Linked DNA regions of Homo sapiens: region 2 is linked to region 1. Evidence: fine-mapped expression QTL. Tissue or cell type: T cells. Region 1 holds a variant in brackets; the other region holds the start of a gene. All regions are shown on one strand. Distances are between the middles of the regions.

Region 1 (8,206 bases):
AGACAAGAAATACTGGAGGCTTGAAGAGTTTATGCAGGGAACAGAAAAGCTGCTGCTCAGAAATGGTGAGTGGCCAAGATGGAAAAAAAAAATCACAGAGTACTAGGGAGCCAGTGAATATTCCATAGCACAAATTGGCTATGTGTCCAATTAGGACACCTCTTTATTACCAGAGGATGCCTCCCACTTGTCTTTTAATTTTTTCTCCTTCCTAAACATTGAAAAAGTTAGGCAGAGAAAGAATGAGAACAGAGGGCAAATGTTCACAATGGAAGTGCAGGTGAAAAGGAAAACCAGAGTACCTAATTTTCTAATCTAGCTAATAATGGCTGCTTTTATTGAGGAATCACTCTAAGCTATGCAACATGCTACACTCTTTTCACATGATTTCTTTAATCTTCACAAGGACCATCAAAGTAGCAAATTATTATCCCAAAGAAACTGAGGCTCAAGGCTAACTGAGCCTTTCACAGAAAGCAGGGCTCCAGGACTGCTATGGTCTGAATGTTTGTGTCTCCCCAAAATTCATCTGTTTGAAACCTGGCCCCCATGGTGGTGGTATAAAAACATGCTTGACAGAGCCTGTTTGCCCCTTTTGCCTGTGGGGAAACATACAAGGCACCATTTATGAGGAACAAGCCCTCATCACACACCACATCCACTGGTGCCTTGATCTTGGACTTCCCAGCCTCCAGAACTGTGAACAATAAATTTCTGTTGTTCATAAATTTCCCAGTTTAAGGTACTTTGTTATAGCAGCTGAAGGAACTAAAACAAGTGCTCACATCCAGGTTTAAATGTCCTTGGAGCCCACTGCCTCTTACTAGATGCTGCTTATTGAAGTGTTTGGGATTCCAGACTCTTGACCGAGAAACAAATACATTATTCAGGACATAATAGGTTAACAAGAACAGTGCATGCAGGAGCCTTGATATATCCAGACAACAAGCATCCTCATCCTCAAGCGGCTCCCCGGGCTTGAAACTCAACAATACATTGTGAAGGCGAGAGCAGGAGTCAGGAACCAGTGAGTTGATAATTCTTTTGAGACCTTCCTGTGATACAGCAAAGTCCATGTCTAAGAAGCTCCTGGGGATTTTTCCTGCTGAGTGGAAACACAGAATTTTCTCCTAAATATTTAGAAAGAAGATAAACAAGTCCATCATGGGCAGACGTCCCTCTGAAAACTCCAGGCACTGATGGAGGGTGGCTGAGCAGAATTGAGCACCTGATAAGATAATCACTACTCAGGAAGCACCGCCTCCCAGTTATTCATTCATGAAATATCTTTTCATTTTAAGGACTGTTCACCAGGCAAGGAGAAACAACACTCAAAGACAGGCAGTTCCCAGTCTAATGACTGCTTCTCAAACTGTGGAAGCCCTTGGATTAGATTCATCTGGTGCTTATCACAGATGCAGATGAAAAGCCCTGCCCCTGGCCAGCAGAATCACAATCTCTGCAGCTGGGGCTGCATTTTGCACAAGCTGGTATATGCATTTTGTACAAGCTCCCTGGATGCTTCTTGTACACAGTCAAGGTTGAGGACCACTGGGTTCAGTTGATAGACAAGGACAATACAATGTGATAAGTGGAGGGGCACCCAAAATTTTGGGAGACAATAGAGCAGCAGTGCTTAACCCAACTTTTGGAAACGGCTTTTAGTGAAATAGCAGCTATCCAGGCTAAAAAGAAGCAAAGAGCTTTCTAAATGAAGCTAACATGCTATGGGAGAGAGGCAGGTTATGTGATCTTTACTGAACAAGGTAGAAGATTAGGAGAAAACCCAAGTAATAATCATTTCTTCTACTCTTCATTGCATGTGAAAACATACTTCTAATTCTTGTGCCAACTTCTGATTCAATCAAGAAACAACATCTGACAGCAACACTTCCATAAGTCTCATTGTAATTCCAGCAACTGCAGGGCAATTAGGAACTGGGTTCCTAATTGCCCGTCTAGGTTTCCATATGTGATTAATAGGAGGCCTATAATTTAACCAACTGTTTACACTTGTCATCTGTAAAACCAGAATAATTATCAAGAATTAGGCAATGCAACACCATGTACCTCTTGATATGATGAGCCAAAAAGGACACATCATTTCTCTACATTTCTGCCAAAAATACAAAACTCGAATCTGATCAGCAGGATATGTGAGAGAACCCCAAACTGAAGACTTTTCCTAAAATAGCTGTCCTGTACTCTACAAAAATGTCAAGGTCACAAAAGATAAAGACTGAGAAATTTCTAAAGATCAATGGAGATCAAAGAGACCTGACAATAAACATAGTACATGATCCTGGACAGGATATTACACCAGAGAGAAAATAGCTATAGAGGATCTTATTGGGACAACTGATGGAATTTGAATATGGATTACGAACTGTGAATTTGACGATAGCATTATACCAGTATTCAATTTATTTCTGGTTTTATAAATGTACTGTGATTATTATGTAAGAGAATGGCTACAATCTTAGGGACATACACACTGAGTGTTCAGGGGTGAAGGGGGATGGTGCTTCCAGGGCTCCATCAAATGGTTCAGAAAAAGTAGGTACAGAGTTCTTTGTACTATCCTGGCAATTTTTGTGTGTTTAAAATTGTATCAACATAAAATTACTTGTCAAAGCTATCAGGCCATGAAAAACAAGGAAAGACTGAGAAATTGTCCAAAACGGAAGGAGACTGAGGAAACGTGACAATTCGTATCCCTGGATTGGATCCTCGAACAGAATAAGGACATTAGTGGAAAATCCGGTGAAATCCAAATAAAGTTGGTAGTTATGTTAATGTGATGTACCAATGTCAATTTCTTAGTTTTGACTAATGTACCAAGATTAAGATATTAACATAAGGGGAAACTGGAAATAGGGTATAAATGTAAGCATATACAATCTTTGTAATTTTCTGTAAATCTAAAATTATTCCAAAATAAGCAGATAATTTAAAAATATATATATTAAAACACACACATAGCAAAGGCCATCTCCAAAGGCAGAGAACACTACACTAACCTCACAGGTAAGGAGGAGGACTGTCTATCAAGAGCTGCTGTCTTAAAGCAGAGGTTCCCAAACTGCACTGACCATGGCAGAATCAAAATTAAATAGTTTACCAGAACCACTAAATTAGAGTCTCTTGGGATGGGACCACTGAAAATAGTTATTTCGAATAAGTGCCTGGGTAATTCTGATTAGTACTCGGGCTTGGGCACCAGGTATCCAGCTCAGCACGTCTCAGATTGAACTACACACAGGGATACCCTGGAGATCTTGTTAAAATGCAGACTTGGGTCAGGAGGTCTGGAATAAGACCAGAGATTCTGCATTTCTAATGTGCTTTCGGGTGATGCCCAAGCATGTGGTCCAAAGCTCCACAGATTGAGAAGGGCAATGCAACAAGACAGAGGGCCCCAGTGCATGCCACTGCGGGGCATTCAGGACCTCTCTACACGTGTGTGAGACCAACTTCCATCTCACTGAAGCCACTGGTCTCTTAGGCTGTGGCCAAACCTAATCCAAACTACATTTAGTCTGCACCGAGTATCTCCAAACATTTTCTTAAGGTAAATTTTAACTAGCATCTCAAACCACATATGAAAGCAGATAAGCATCTGTTGCCTGACTCAAATATATCCGAAACTATTAGGCATCTCTACTTTTCTCTGTTTGTATAGGTTCCTTCTTGAGTCAGTAGAAAACTACCTCAGAGAGCAGTTAAAATGACAATGATGTGTGGTCTGATAACAGCTTTTTTGACAAAAATCCCAAAAATTTACCCTTTCTTACATTTGAGTTTAAGTTCAATTAATTCTGAGCTGACCCGTATAATTCATTTTAATGATTCCTTTGGATTCGCACAATTCCATATAACTCTCGCATTGATCTGCCACCAGATAATAAAATCTGACCAGGAAAAAAAATTGTAAATCATAATTGTAAAATAGTATGGAGAACATAAAGATTGGAGTTGCCATGGTTATTGTAATTTTGAAAATGTAGAAAGCCATCTAGAACCCTATACTATATACATTATGAAACCTGTAAGTATATAATAGGTCTCAACCTTTTATTCCTTAAATCATTTGCTCTAGAGTGACTACAGTAAAGTGAGGACAAAAGTAACCATTCTGAGATAACCTATAATCAAATAGTGCATGAGAATCACACCATACAATTCTCAAGATTCAAGTTAAAGGATGCCTTTATGGGTCAAGCCACTTTTATAAGTCTTCTTGATATTTTTTAATTCAATAAACATTTGTTGAGTATTTACTACATGGCAGACAATATGCTAGACACATTGTGAATTTTACACTAAAAATAAAAATTACAATTGGCTGAAATCCAAGACTGAACCCCTCTATACTAATTTCATTACAAAGCTATTAATATAACAAAGTACCAATGCATTTGGCTGCTTCTGCAAAAAATGAAAAAAAAGGGATTTTAAAAATTAAGTTTTGTCTTGCCTGTGTTCCAACAATCTGCACATATCCATGTGTCATGGCAAGGCAGGGATGGGGCAGCCTCCACTGTGTCAACTGCCCAGGGCCCGATCCACTTGTCCCTCCCACCTCCTTCCTAGCTTCAGACACAAATCCTGTATTGACACAATCCAAGTGGATGCTGGAAGAGTATAAAAACCCCATCCATCACTGTATGTGCTACAGAAATCAAGCACATTGCAACTATTATTGCACAGATTTTTCAACACAGCTAGAGAGAGAAAGGGAGAAGAGTGAGCTATCCAAAGTCTATGAAAATTCCAGTATAGAAAGGAAACTGAAAATAGACACCCAATGCTGTCACGTTACTAACCTGATCAATTTCCATGAGTTTGGGGTAGGCGCCCGGCCATTCTATGGCCACCTTGACGATGTCCGCGGGTGGCGGCATTGTAAGTCCCCAAAATGTTCAAAGCCAGTGGGAATGAGGATCCTACAGCGTAAACGGCCACACGTGTCTATACCTAATGAGGAATGACAGAAAAAGAAAGAGAAGTCACTCAGTGCAGATGCAGGGTGAATTTTGCTTCATCACTTCCTGTTTTCACTGGTGGTTTGGTA[T/G]GAAAAACGGCTCCCCTTGGTGCCTGGGTGCTGAAGGTGCAGGGGCACAGCCAACGGTACAATGGGCTCCTGAGGAAAGAAGAAAGATGGGGGTGCCCGTGCCAACGCCCTTGAGTCAAAGCCGCCAGGAGACGCTGCCCTGTGGGGCACGGCTTGCGCGAATCTTCAGTGGAAAGAAAGCTGTTCCTTACCACTGAGTTCTGCTCTGAATGGTGCCCAGGGTCTGAATGAGCCAGGCTCACTCTCTGTCCAGACATGCATATAAACGTCTGGCACTCAACAGTCTGAGGAAGGACAGATTGCCCAGGAAGTCATGGTCAGGAAGCAGTGTTTCTTTAAAGTGTTTTCTGTGTGTCACAAACAGATCTCCACACTATAGCAACCAGGATATCATGAAGAAGGAGAAACACCCTGAGAGCTCACACACATGCACACCCATACTCCCTCCCCAAGGTCGGTTCACACAATGCACCTTCGGTGGGGGGTGGGGGTGGGGCAGAAAATGTACAGATGTGGACTGAATGGCATTCAGAACAGACTTTGAATTCTCACTTGAATGAATCGTGCTTCTTACACAAAGGAGGTAACCATTATCCTCTGCTGCCTCTTCCCAGGCTAGCCCATTTCTTTTTTTTTTTTTTTTTTTTTTTTGAGGCAGAGCCTGGTTCTGTTGCCCAGTGGCGCAATTTTGGCTCACTGCAACCTCCACCTCTTGAGTCCAAGCAATTCTCCTGCCTCAGCCTCCCAAGTAGCCAGGATAACAGGGGCCCACCACCACGCCTGGCTAATTTTTATATGTTTAGTAGAGACAAGGTTTCGCCATGTTGGCCAGGCTGGTCTTGAACTCTGGGTAATCTGCCCACCTCAGCCTCCCAAAGTGCTGCGATTACAGGCGTGAGCCACCTGGCCCAGCCCCATTTCTTTTTAAAATTAATTTTTTGTTAACAATCATGTGATACAAACTTGTGTGTGTATGTGTGTTTGTGTGTACAAAGACGGACAGTGTAGAGTCTCTTCTCCCAGTGTCACCCACCTGCCCAATATCTGCGTTCACTTCTTATACTTCCAGTTATCCAAAGTCATTAGGTATCCCTCCAAACTTTCTTCAAGTATAGAAGGCAAATACAAAAATACATTATTACATTTGCCACTTTCTTTATATAAAAGGCAGCATTTTTTTTTTTTTTTTGAGACAGAGTCTCCCTCTGTTGCCCAGGCTGGAGTGCAGGGGCATGATCTCAGCTCAAGGCAACCTCCACCTCCCGGGTTCAAGCGATTCTCCCGTCTCAGCTTCCCGAGTAGCTGGGATTACAGACGCACACCACCACATCCGGCTAACTTTTGTATTTTTAGTAGAGACAGGGTTTCGCCATGTTGGCCAGGCTGGTCTTGAACTCCTGACCTCAGGTGATCTGCCCTCCCCGGCCTCCTGAAGTGCTGGGATTGCAGGCGTGAGCCACCGTGACTGGCCAAAAGGGAGCATTCTTTTTGTTTCTTTTAGTATATTTTCTAAATCCTTCTATGTTAGTACAAAGAGAGCATCTTGATTCTTTTCACAGCTACATAGTAGTTCATTGTGTGGATGTGTCCTATTTGATGAACCAGTCCCCTGCTGTGGGCCATTTGGGTGATTTCTTAAGTTTAGCTATCATAAACCAAACTGTGATCCATAAACTTATATATAACTGATTTTGCACATATGCAAGTACATCCTTACAATAGATTCACAGAACTGAAACTGCTGGGTCAAAACATAGGTGCAGTTAATATTGATAGCCATTTCCAAATTTCTCTCCATTGGACTTGTATGAGGTTGTCTATTTACACCCAGCCTCACCAACAGAATGAATTTTTGCAAACCTGACAGGTTGAAAAATAAAATCTTAATGTATTTTAAAATTATATTTCTCTTATTGTGAGTGAGGCTGAACATAAAGAGGAAAAGACACACGCTCCCTTTTTGTGAACAGTCCAAACATTTGTCCCTTTTCTATTGGGTTCTCTTGTCTTTTTTGAGAAATTGATATCTGTAACGAAGATCTTAAACATGTGCATTTGGTCCTTTACCAGACCAGAGTAGGCCTTGTGAGTTACTATCCCAGATCTCAGCAGTAGCTGGACATTACTGAGACAATAGAGATAGCAGAGTTAATAATGGAAGCCTCAACAACACCAGCAGTTATATAAATAACTAACTTCAGCGCAGCTGACAAGTAAAGGAAATGAACCAAAACAAAACCGCTACTCCTTTGGCCAAAGATGATTAGGGAAGCCTGCTGAGAAGCTAATCAGTGGTAACTAGCAAGAGCAAATCTACAAAGCAGTGGTTTAGTCACTCATTCAACAAATAATTATTGAGCCTCTGCTCAGTGCCAGGTCTATTCCCCATGCTGAGGATATACAGCAGCAAATCTGGGATATAGCAACAAAGGATATGAAGAAAAATCAAGCAGCGAAGGAAACTGAAGCCTGTGCCTCTACCAGTGTGGGAGGGGCAGGAATACAATTTTAAACAGGAAACTCAGAGAAAGGTTCACCGAGAAGGCAGCACCTGAGTAAAGACATCTGAGGCCAGGTGCGGTGGCTCACGCCTGTAATCCCAACACTTTGAGACTGAGGCGGGTGGATCACTTGAGGCCAGGAGTTCAAGACCAGCCTGGCCAACATGGTGAAACCTCATCTCTACTAAAAAATACAAAAATTAGCCTGGCGTGGTGGTGCTTGTAATCGCAGCTACTCGGGAGGCTGTGACAAGAGAATCATTTGAACCCGGGAGGTGGAGGTTGCAGGGGACCAAGATCGCACCACTGCACACCAGCGTGGGCAACAGAGCGAGACTCTGTCTCAAGCCGGGTGTGGTGGCTCACACCTGTAATCCCAGCACTTTGGGAGGCCGAGGCAGGCAGATCACAAGGTCAGGAGATCGAGACCATCCTGGCTAACGCCGTGAAACCCCATCTCTACTAAAAATACAAAAAATTAGCCGGGCGTGGTGGTGGGTGCCTGTAGTCCCAGCTACTCGGGAGGCTGAGACAGGAAAATGGCGTGAACCCAGGAGGCAGAGCTTGCAGTGAGCCGAGATCATGCCACTGCACTCCAGCCTGGGCAACAGAGCAAGACTCCATCTAAAAA
Region 2 (8,159 bases), 110 kb after region 1:
TTCACCGCCTTAGCCAGGATGGTCTGGATCTCCTGACCTCGCAATCCACCCGCCTCGGACTCCCAAAGTGCTGGGATTAGAGGCGTGAGCCACCGCGCCCGGCCAATAGTAGCATTTTGAAAAGTTAAGTCAATAGCCGACAGAACTGCATCTGGTTCAACATTTGGAAATAGCATCTCCTGCAGGGGGTTAAACCAACAGTATTTTGTTAAAAGGAGATAGCTAAGTATTTCTTGTAGCCCTCTAGAACGTCGTCATCAGAATCCCTGGCAAGTTGGTTAAAAATGTAGTTTTCCCCAGAATTATTGAAACAGGCTTTTTAAAATCGTTACCTACACTGAGCAATACTTTGACATTAAGACTGGGTGTCTGTTTTATGAAATGCTGTTTTCCACACCACTCTTCTCTTTCACATTTTAAACTGCTGGTCTTGGCCTACTAAAGTGATATCATGATCCGCTCATGGGTTACAGCCGTAAGCTTAAAAAGCACTTCTCTGGTTGACTAGAAGGAACCAGAACTAAAGTTGCACAATTAGTAGCAAACACTCCAGGCTTTGTGATGCAGAGAGGGTTTCTTAATCCACCACGTTTTCCAGATTCAACAGAATGTCTTATAAACCAAACTATCTACTTGGATGGTTTCAGGCACCAAAAAGTGGTTACAAGCTTGAGTTACAAACCTTAATTGTATCCACTGTCTTAGATCTGGAAGGGAAATGTTACCTCCATAGGAATGATCACCTTTAACCCTTGAGCATTAGGCAACCTGATGAAGTAAGCACAGTGTGTGATCAGGTGAGCTCCTTGCCTCACCCCCAGCCACATCCTTCAGCAAAGGCTTCAAAGCCCTTTCCCCACCCGCCCCACCCACTCACACCAAACACCCAAAGGGGTTAAATTACTTTGAAACACTCAAGAGTTAGCTTCTTTTCAATATAGTAATTTAGTAAATGTTCAAGACTTAGCTGCACCTGCAGAACACCTTAATGTTTTCTCACTTTTATTTTTCTTCTCCTAGGCATTTCTCATCTCCCCTGCATCTGCCACACAGCCTCCCTTACAGCCTCCTGTCTTCACTTCCATATTGTAGGAGAGCAGAATGGGACACAGTAGATGCCTCTGACTTCAATCCCCTTACAATCATGCCCTTCCTCCTAGGCTAAAGCAACACAGACTTCTTTAAAAGACCTTCTCCAAGGAGAGTGATGAAACACCAGATCTGGAATGGTTATGTGTCATTAAGTGTACTGGTTATCTAATCTCCCAAGGAATCACCTCTCTGTTCCTTTCTTCAGGCAGAAAAAGGGAGGAGTCTACTCAAGGCAGAACAGAGTCTAAAAGAAGAGTGGCCTGGCATGGGGGAAAGGACAGCGAAAAAAGCAAAAGCCCATTACCTGGGCTTCTCACTTGCACTAATGCTGCAACATTTTCCTGGTATATTTCCCTGGTGGATCTCTCCCAGTATAGCCACCTCTCATTTAGTCAGTCAACAAACACTTATTGAGCACCGACATCATGCTAAGAATCCATCCAGGTTCTGGAGCTGTAAACAAGACAAGGTAGTCACTACCCTCATGGAACTTCTGCTCTAACAGGGAGAGAGACAATACTCAAAATACACCAATGACTGTATAATGCCAGGGAGTAAAAGGTACTAAGACAAAAAACTGAGTAACATAAGAGGCCCAGGGAGTGTCTGGCTGCTATTTTATATGGGGTAGCCAGGGAAGGCCCCCTATAAGCTGACAACTGGACAGAGACCTGAAAGAAGCAGGGGAAGTGAGTCATCTGGACATGTGGGAGAAAAGCTCCTCCTGTAATATCATGGGCAAAGGCCCTAGGGAGAGAACTCAGTGAAAAAGAAGAATGTAAGACGGTGAGGGTGCCTGCAGTTACCAAGGACAGTAAGCATGACCATCACTAGAACTGCCCATCTTCTTGCCCAATGACTGCTCCAGGCCCTGAGTTTCCCCAGACTCCCATCCGGGTCTGCCTCCGAGCCTGCCCCTCCCTGATACCTACCATACTTCTTGTTCTCCAGTTCAGTACCCTCCTGACACAACCCCTCCCCAAGAGTCCCAGCAGTCCAGGTCATTTTCTCAAAATTTACCAACCTAATAAAAACAAACAAAACAGAGTAGAAACAAGGCAGCATGCACATTTAACCACAGCCTTCCAGAGATAGGAAATGTACAATAATAAAGAGTAAAGCTTCAAAAGGTCAGCTATAAGAAAAATTAAAAATATGTGATGTTTCTGCAGGGGATCTGGCCTCCTAACTTACCATTATTTTCCCCCAGATCTGTAAATTATGGGACATTAATGCTTGAAACAACCTTGGAAAGTAGGCATGGAGGTGAGATAATATGAGAACCCTGGCCAGAGGAGACCCCAATAATAGCTGCTGCCGGTTTTTGCAATCTCAAAGTGATTCTGAGAAGGATTATATCCCTCTATGTCCCAAAGTTGCTCGCAGGGTTTTGGTGTGTAAATACAGGTCATTAATTACTTTTATAGAAGCAAAAGAGAAACACTCAGATATTCTTCCATAGCTTCATCCCCAAGTCACTGGCAGCGCCCAACAGGAAGCCTCCGCTTCTGGAGGCCTCAACCCGTCTTAGATTATCTGAAATCTTAACCATAACGAATTAGGCCCGAATCATTCAAGGCCAGCGGTGTTGGGAAGCCCATGATCCAGCGCGGGGGGCATCCCAAATATATTCACTGAGTCTCGGGAGCCGTCCAGGGACTCTCAGAGCTGGGTCACTACCTGGGACCAAGCCTGAGGCTGGTCCTTTAGGTCAAGGCAGGTCCCGACCCGCCTCCAACTTCAAATGGCCCCCTAGGCGGGAGAGGGTCACTGGGCGGGGAGTTCCTGGCTGTGCGGTCACACACACACACACCGACTCACACACACACCCACAACACCCCCCCCACACACACACACTCACACACACACCGACGACACACCACACACACATACATACGCGCGCGCGCACACACCACACACACACACACACACACACACACACACACACGCCGCCTCGCGCGCGCTCGCGGCACAGCACCGACTTCCCAACCCCAAACACACGCGCGCACCCCCGGGACAGCTGAGTTCTGTATTTCCTCTTCCTCAAAGCGACTCCGGCGATCGCAGTCGCCACTCTCCGCTCCGATTCCCGGGCCCCCTGGCATGCCGCCGCCCCCTTCTCTGAAGGCGCGCCCGGTGCGTCCCCTCTCCGAAGCCGAGATTTCCACGAAGCTCCACAAAGCTCCCCGCCGCCTCTCTCGGTCTCGGCGGAGACCCCGGTGTGTCCCCGGGAGGAGAGTATTTACTAACCAGAACCTCAGGGGCTCCCGGCTGCCCAGACCGCCCTCTCCGGCCCTCCTGGCCCCCATTCCTCTGGCCCATCACCGCCCCCTCCCACGAGCGCGCTCGCCGGGGGATTCCCTCCCATCCCCGAGTGCAGGAGAAGACGCCGAGTCTGAGCCGCAGCCGCTTCTCTAGCTCTATAGGAATCTTGACTCCAAGATCCCAGCCCCACATCCCCCGTCCCCAGTAACCCCGCGCCAGCGTCGCAACCCTCCCGCGCCCCCCCTCCCGCAGACCCTGGTCGAAATGTCTCGGCGGGCTCCCGGGCCCCGGGCCCTGCGCTTCATCCGCGGGCGCCGCACCTCCAGCGCCCCCTCCCTCCGCTCCCACTCCCACTCCCGCCATCCCCGGAGCTCAGACTTCCCCAACTGCAGAGCGCCCCGACGCGCCCGCAGCCCTCACCCTGCCGAGCGCGGCGGCCACCCCCGCCCGAGCCGCGGCGCCCCCAGGGAGGAAACAAAAGTGTCTCCGCGGCGCCCGGAGTCCCCCGGAGCAGGACGCCTCCTCCCGGCCCCAGTCCCGGCCCCCTCCCCTGCCGCGCCGAGGTCAGCGAGTCGGGGCGCGGCGCCAGCCCAGGAAACTTTACGAACCTGCTTGGGGTCGCAGGACAGCAGCGGCAAGGGTTCCCGGCGATCAGAGCTCCGGCGACCCGCCACCATTGAAGGGGAACTGGAGGCTCTGTCGCCCAGCGTGGGGCCGCGGCGGCGTGGGTGGCTCTGCCTCTATCCTGTGCCCATCCTCGCCCGCTCCCGCTCGCCCCAGCACACGCACTTACACTCTGGGTCGGCCGGCTGCTGCACCGCCGGCTGCCGCTGCTCTCACTTCCTCTTCCTTCCTCCTGCTGGCCAGAGACACATTTTGCATCTGCAAGGCATCCGGAGATCAGCCGCGAACTCTCCTCCCGAGCGGACGCTGCGGAGTTGCAGCCGCCGCCCCCGGCACCTGCGCCAGGACACTCGTGGTCTGCGCGTTCGCCTTGCGCCCGCACCCTGCCTGGTCCCTGCCCACTGCACTTTGCCTAGGGGGATGCCCACGACTTTTTGAAGTCCCCCTACTTAAAAGACAGAAATGTCAAACACCATGCATGCCTCAGATCTGCTATAAATAATATGTGTGCAGAGCATGACTTCGATGAGCTCACACACGGCGTTTGGAGGCACTAATTAACTCCGTCACCCTCATAGCGCCATCTCCGGGAGGCCAAAAGCGAGTAGCATCTTTTCACATCCTTTTTTAATTTTTGGCAACCGGTTCCGGATATTAAGGGGAAACTTCGGTGGGCTGTTTGAACGCTACTTTAAGACGTGTTTGTTTTGACGCTGTGCCTCTACCCTTGGACAGAGTGGCAAAAAAAAAAAAAAAAAGTTTCCTCCCTCTCCGTCGACATCTATGTATTTACTAACCCTGCAATTGAAACTACAAGATGTATTTCTAACCAATTAAGCCAGGGACTTCCTAATTTTGCATAACTTTGCATAAGGCAAGACGTTCCACCCATAATTTGATATTTAGAATAAATTACTTAATTCATGCAACCTACTTAAATCATTTTCAAAGCAGAAATCAAAAACGTTAACTCCCAGCCTAGCTGGCAGGAGGGAAGAGGGTTGCAGGCGAACCACCTGTCCTCCCCCAGTTCAGAAATACCTACATTGGCTCTACCGGAAAAGTCAAAGGCAGTTCGGCATTTTCTTCTAATTGGCAAAGGAAATAAGTCGGGGGCAGGGAGGCATCAGAATCAAGGTGGAAAACTAAGCTCCCTTTTAAGATCTTCCCCCTCAAGAGCCACAGGCAGCTGTTGAGCACTTGAAATGTGGCTATCCCTGAGATGTTCTGTAAGTGTAAAACAGACATACAATTCAGTATTTTTAAAATGAATGTAAACTAACTTGTTAAGTATGTTTATGTTGATTACATTATTGCAATACATGAGAATAGTCTGATGTAGTAAGTCAGTTGGATTCGTCATGTGTTGGGTTAAGATATAAGCATATATAAGATTAATTTCACCAGTTTCTTTTTACATTTTCTGATGTAGCTACTAGAAAATGTAAGGCTACACATAGGCTCTCATTAGTGGCTCACCTTATACTTTTAATGAACAGCTCTGATCTAACTCCTTATTATACGCATGACTCTGGGAGGCAGTATTAGTATCAAGAGTGCCTGGGTCCAGATGGTTATAAGCCAGTAACTAAAGCAGGGTGACTGCAGGAAAGCAACTTAACTTCTGTATTTCCTCATCTATAAAACAGTAATGATATAATAACAAAAGTCAATAGCACCAACTATTAAATGAAGTAATTTAATAAGTAGTCAGTAAATGGAGCCTTTACTAACGATGCTCTGAGACACTTGTAGTGATAAGTATGAATTTGATCTACAACCTTGTAGCTAAGGCATATAAAGACCTTAACTTTAGTGCATGCGTGGTGAGCACTCAGTAAACATTAGCTGTCATAATTGTTCCCTCCTTGCACAGCAATTATGCAAATCCACTCCCCTGTAACCTTTGGTCCCGGGTCTTCACATCTTTCCTCCATGAAGTAGTCTTTCAGATCTTTGAAGTCAGCCCTCAAATTTTACCTAAACACTCTCTTTTGAGGATTAACCATCCTCAATTATTCTGACTCTTCTTCATGTGACATGGCTTCAAGTCTCTCTCATTTGAGCCATCTTCTCCCAGAAGAATATCTGTCTCTGCCCTTTAAAAAAAAAAAAGAAAAAAGAAAAAAAGAAAAAAAAGTAGTCTTATAGATTAATTACGTAATTAACCATTAGCAAACACAATACAGCCTGAGATCTTCTCTCTCTCTCTCTTTTTTTTTTTTTCTCAAATACATCTCAGTGTTGATAGGAGTGCAAGGGGAAGACTGGAAATTCTTTACAGTGTTACGGTTAGGCCATGTGCGGGAACATGGAGTTGATCTTTGGAACCAAAGTTCCTGATCCACTTTCTCTAAGTCCCTTAGGATTTAATTCAGGCATCCAGTGTCTCCCCATATCCATGGATTACATTAAAATATTAAGATGCCACATGACATCCCACTAAGGAGCTCCCTCTGCTAAGCTGGGAGAATAGCATTCTTTGGTTCACTGGTTATTAATAAACTGCTTAACAGTGCAATTGCCAAACTTCAATTTTCTCTTCTATTCATAAAGACATCTTAGAAGTATTGTCAAGTGTCTTAGAGGAACCCGCCTTCTCCCTCAGCTCTGCTGGTGGTCAGCAATGGATGCAATAAAGTGGAATATGTGGTGTTGTCATGTATGTGGGCTCCATCTTTGGACCTGGTTGTTGTGTATAAATCCCACCATTACCATTTACTGGCTGCATTACTCTTAACTCATGAGATTGAAACCATGTCTGCCAGATACGGTTAAGTGAAGATTAAATGAGTTAATTCATGAAAAATTCTTAACAGGGCCTAACACATAGAAACACTCATTGAATGTTAGCTATTATTATCTACAATAGTTCTTCAATGGACAAGTCATATTAACAGACTCAAAAAATAAAAGAGCAACATCCACTCCCTCTTTTCACATGTCAGTCTCCACCCATAATGGTGAGAAAGATCTGTTGCCACTGTCCCTTCTCAGCTCCTGGTCACAGCTTGGGCCATTCAATCATTAGGTCATGCTTTAGCAGTGAGGACGGCCATTTTATAGCAAGGAACAGAATCCAAGTGCATCCCTTCACTTGCACTTCTGGTAAGCCCACCTGGGCAGAACTTAGACCTTTGTGCAGACAGGCCAGCCTCATCCACATCTCAAGTGGTTAGGGAGACTGATTCAGGATCTCCTCTGTAGAACCATCTGTCTTAGTTTCAGGATAAGTAGAGGAAAAGAGAGCAGGGTAGGGACAGATGGCTGGAAAATCAAAATCACTTAAGCCTCAAGTCTAAGCTTCATTCCCCCACCGTGTTTCTATAAGAAAGCTTTGAATTGTTAATGGACAGAGAGGTATTTGGGGCAGTTTCTCATATTTAAATACTTTGATCTTGTGTTTCCCATGTCTTTATCTTTCCTTGTGTGTACAAAATTCCAAACTAGGAGGATTGAGATCCTATCAAAATGTCACCATGCAAAGTGTCACCATGAAACCCCAAACTGCAATAATGGCCTGTTGTATTTTTAATCAATGATGACTCACATTGATCAACTCCTTCCTAAGTGCTCATAAATATTAATTTCTAATTTAATTTTTAAACATTGGATTCTAAATGGATCCTGTGCATTTAATAATACATTCAGTAATTTGCTCCAAATTTCTGCTCCAAATCAGCACTAAATTCCTTGATCTACAGTTTGACAAATCTATTCCCTTTTCTTGTGTTAGAATCAGGCTCATGCTGGTTTGCCTCCAGTCTTCAAACAGCTCTGGGGACATAGAGAGTTGCCTCAGCTCCAGGAAGCCGCTACACCAGGGATAATGAGATCTGGGCAGCAGGCAGACACCTGCAATTTAGAGCCACTAGGGTCAGCCCTGGAACAAGCAGAATGACACGGAGGGCTGCTGTGAGAGGGCATTCCTTCACTTGATCGTTCATTAATTCAACGTGCACTGAATGCTTTAAATGTGAGTTTAAAAGGGAGGAAGGGAGAGTACAATCACGAACAAGACAAACATGGCTTGCCCCCTTTTGGCACTCCCATTCTAGCTCAGAAGACAGATTTTAAATGGCCATAAAAACAAGTGAGGAGTATAATATTAGGAGAAGGACAGAAGATTGCAGGACTATGCGGAGACAGGGATGCTAACATCATCTGTAAGTCAGGAA

The links. PIP is the estimated chance that this variant, and not a neighbour inherited with it, causes the effect.
Region 2: it holds the start of ELMO1, and the variant in region 1 is fine-mapped to the expression of ELMO1 in T cells (TOPMed, PIP above 0.99). The same link has a PIP of 0.9 or more in blood mononuclear cells and whole blood.

Annotation. Positions count from the first base shown.
Region 1 is chr7:37,337,787-37,345,992 of GRCh38, forward strand. It overlaps ELMO1 (engulfment and cell motility 1), which reads right to left. Exons shown (of 22, transcript NM_014800.11): 2 at 4,827-4,977. The coding sequence starts at 4,904. Among named protein-coding and RNA genes, the nearest start is that of ELMO1, 110 kb to the right of the region's middle. RefSeq lists enhancers at 4,972-5,091, 5,332-5,571. The variant T/G (reference allele first, on the strand shown) is at 5,075.
Region 2 is chr7:37,444,710-37,452,868 of GRCh38, forward strand. ELMO1 (engulfment and cell motility 1) reads right to left here and starts at 4,155. Exons shown (of 22, transcript NM_014800.11): 1 at 3,966-4,155. RefSeq lists silencers at 3,795-3,844, 3,855-3,904.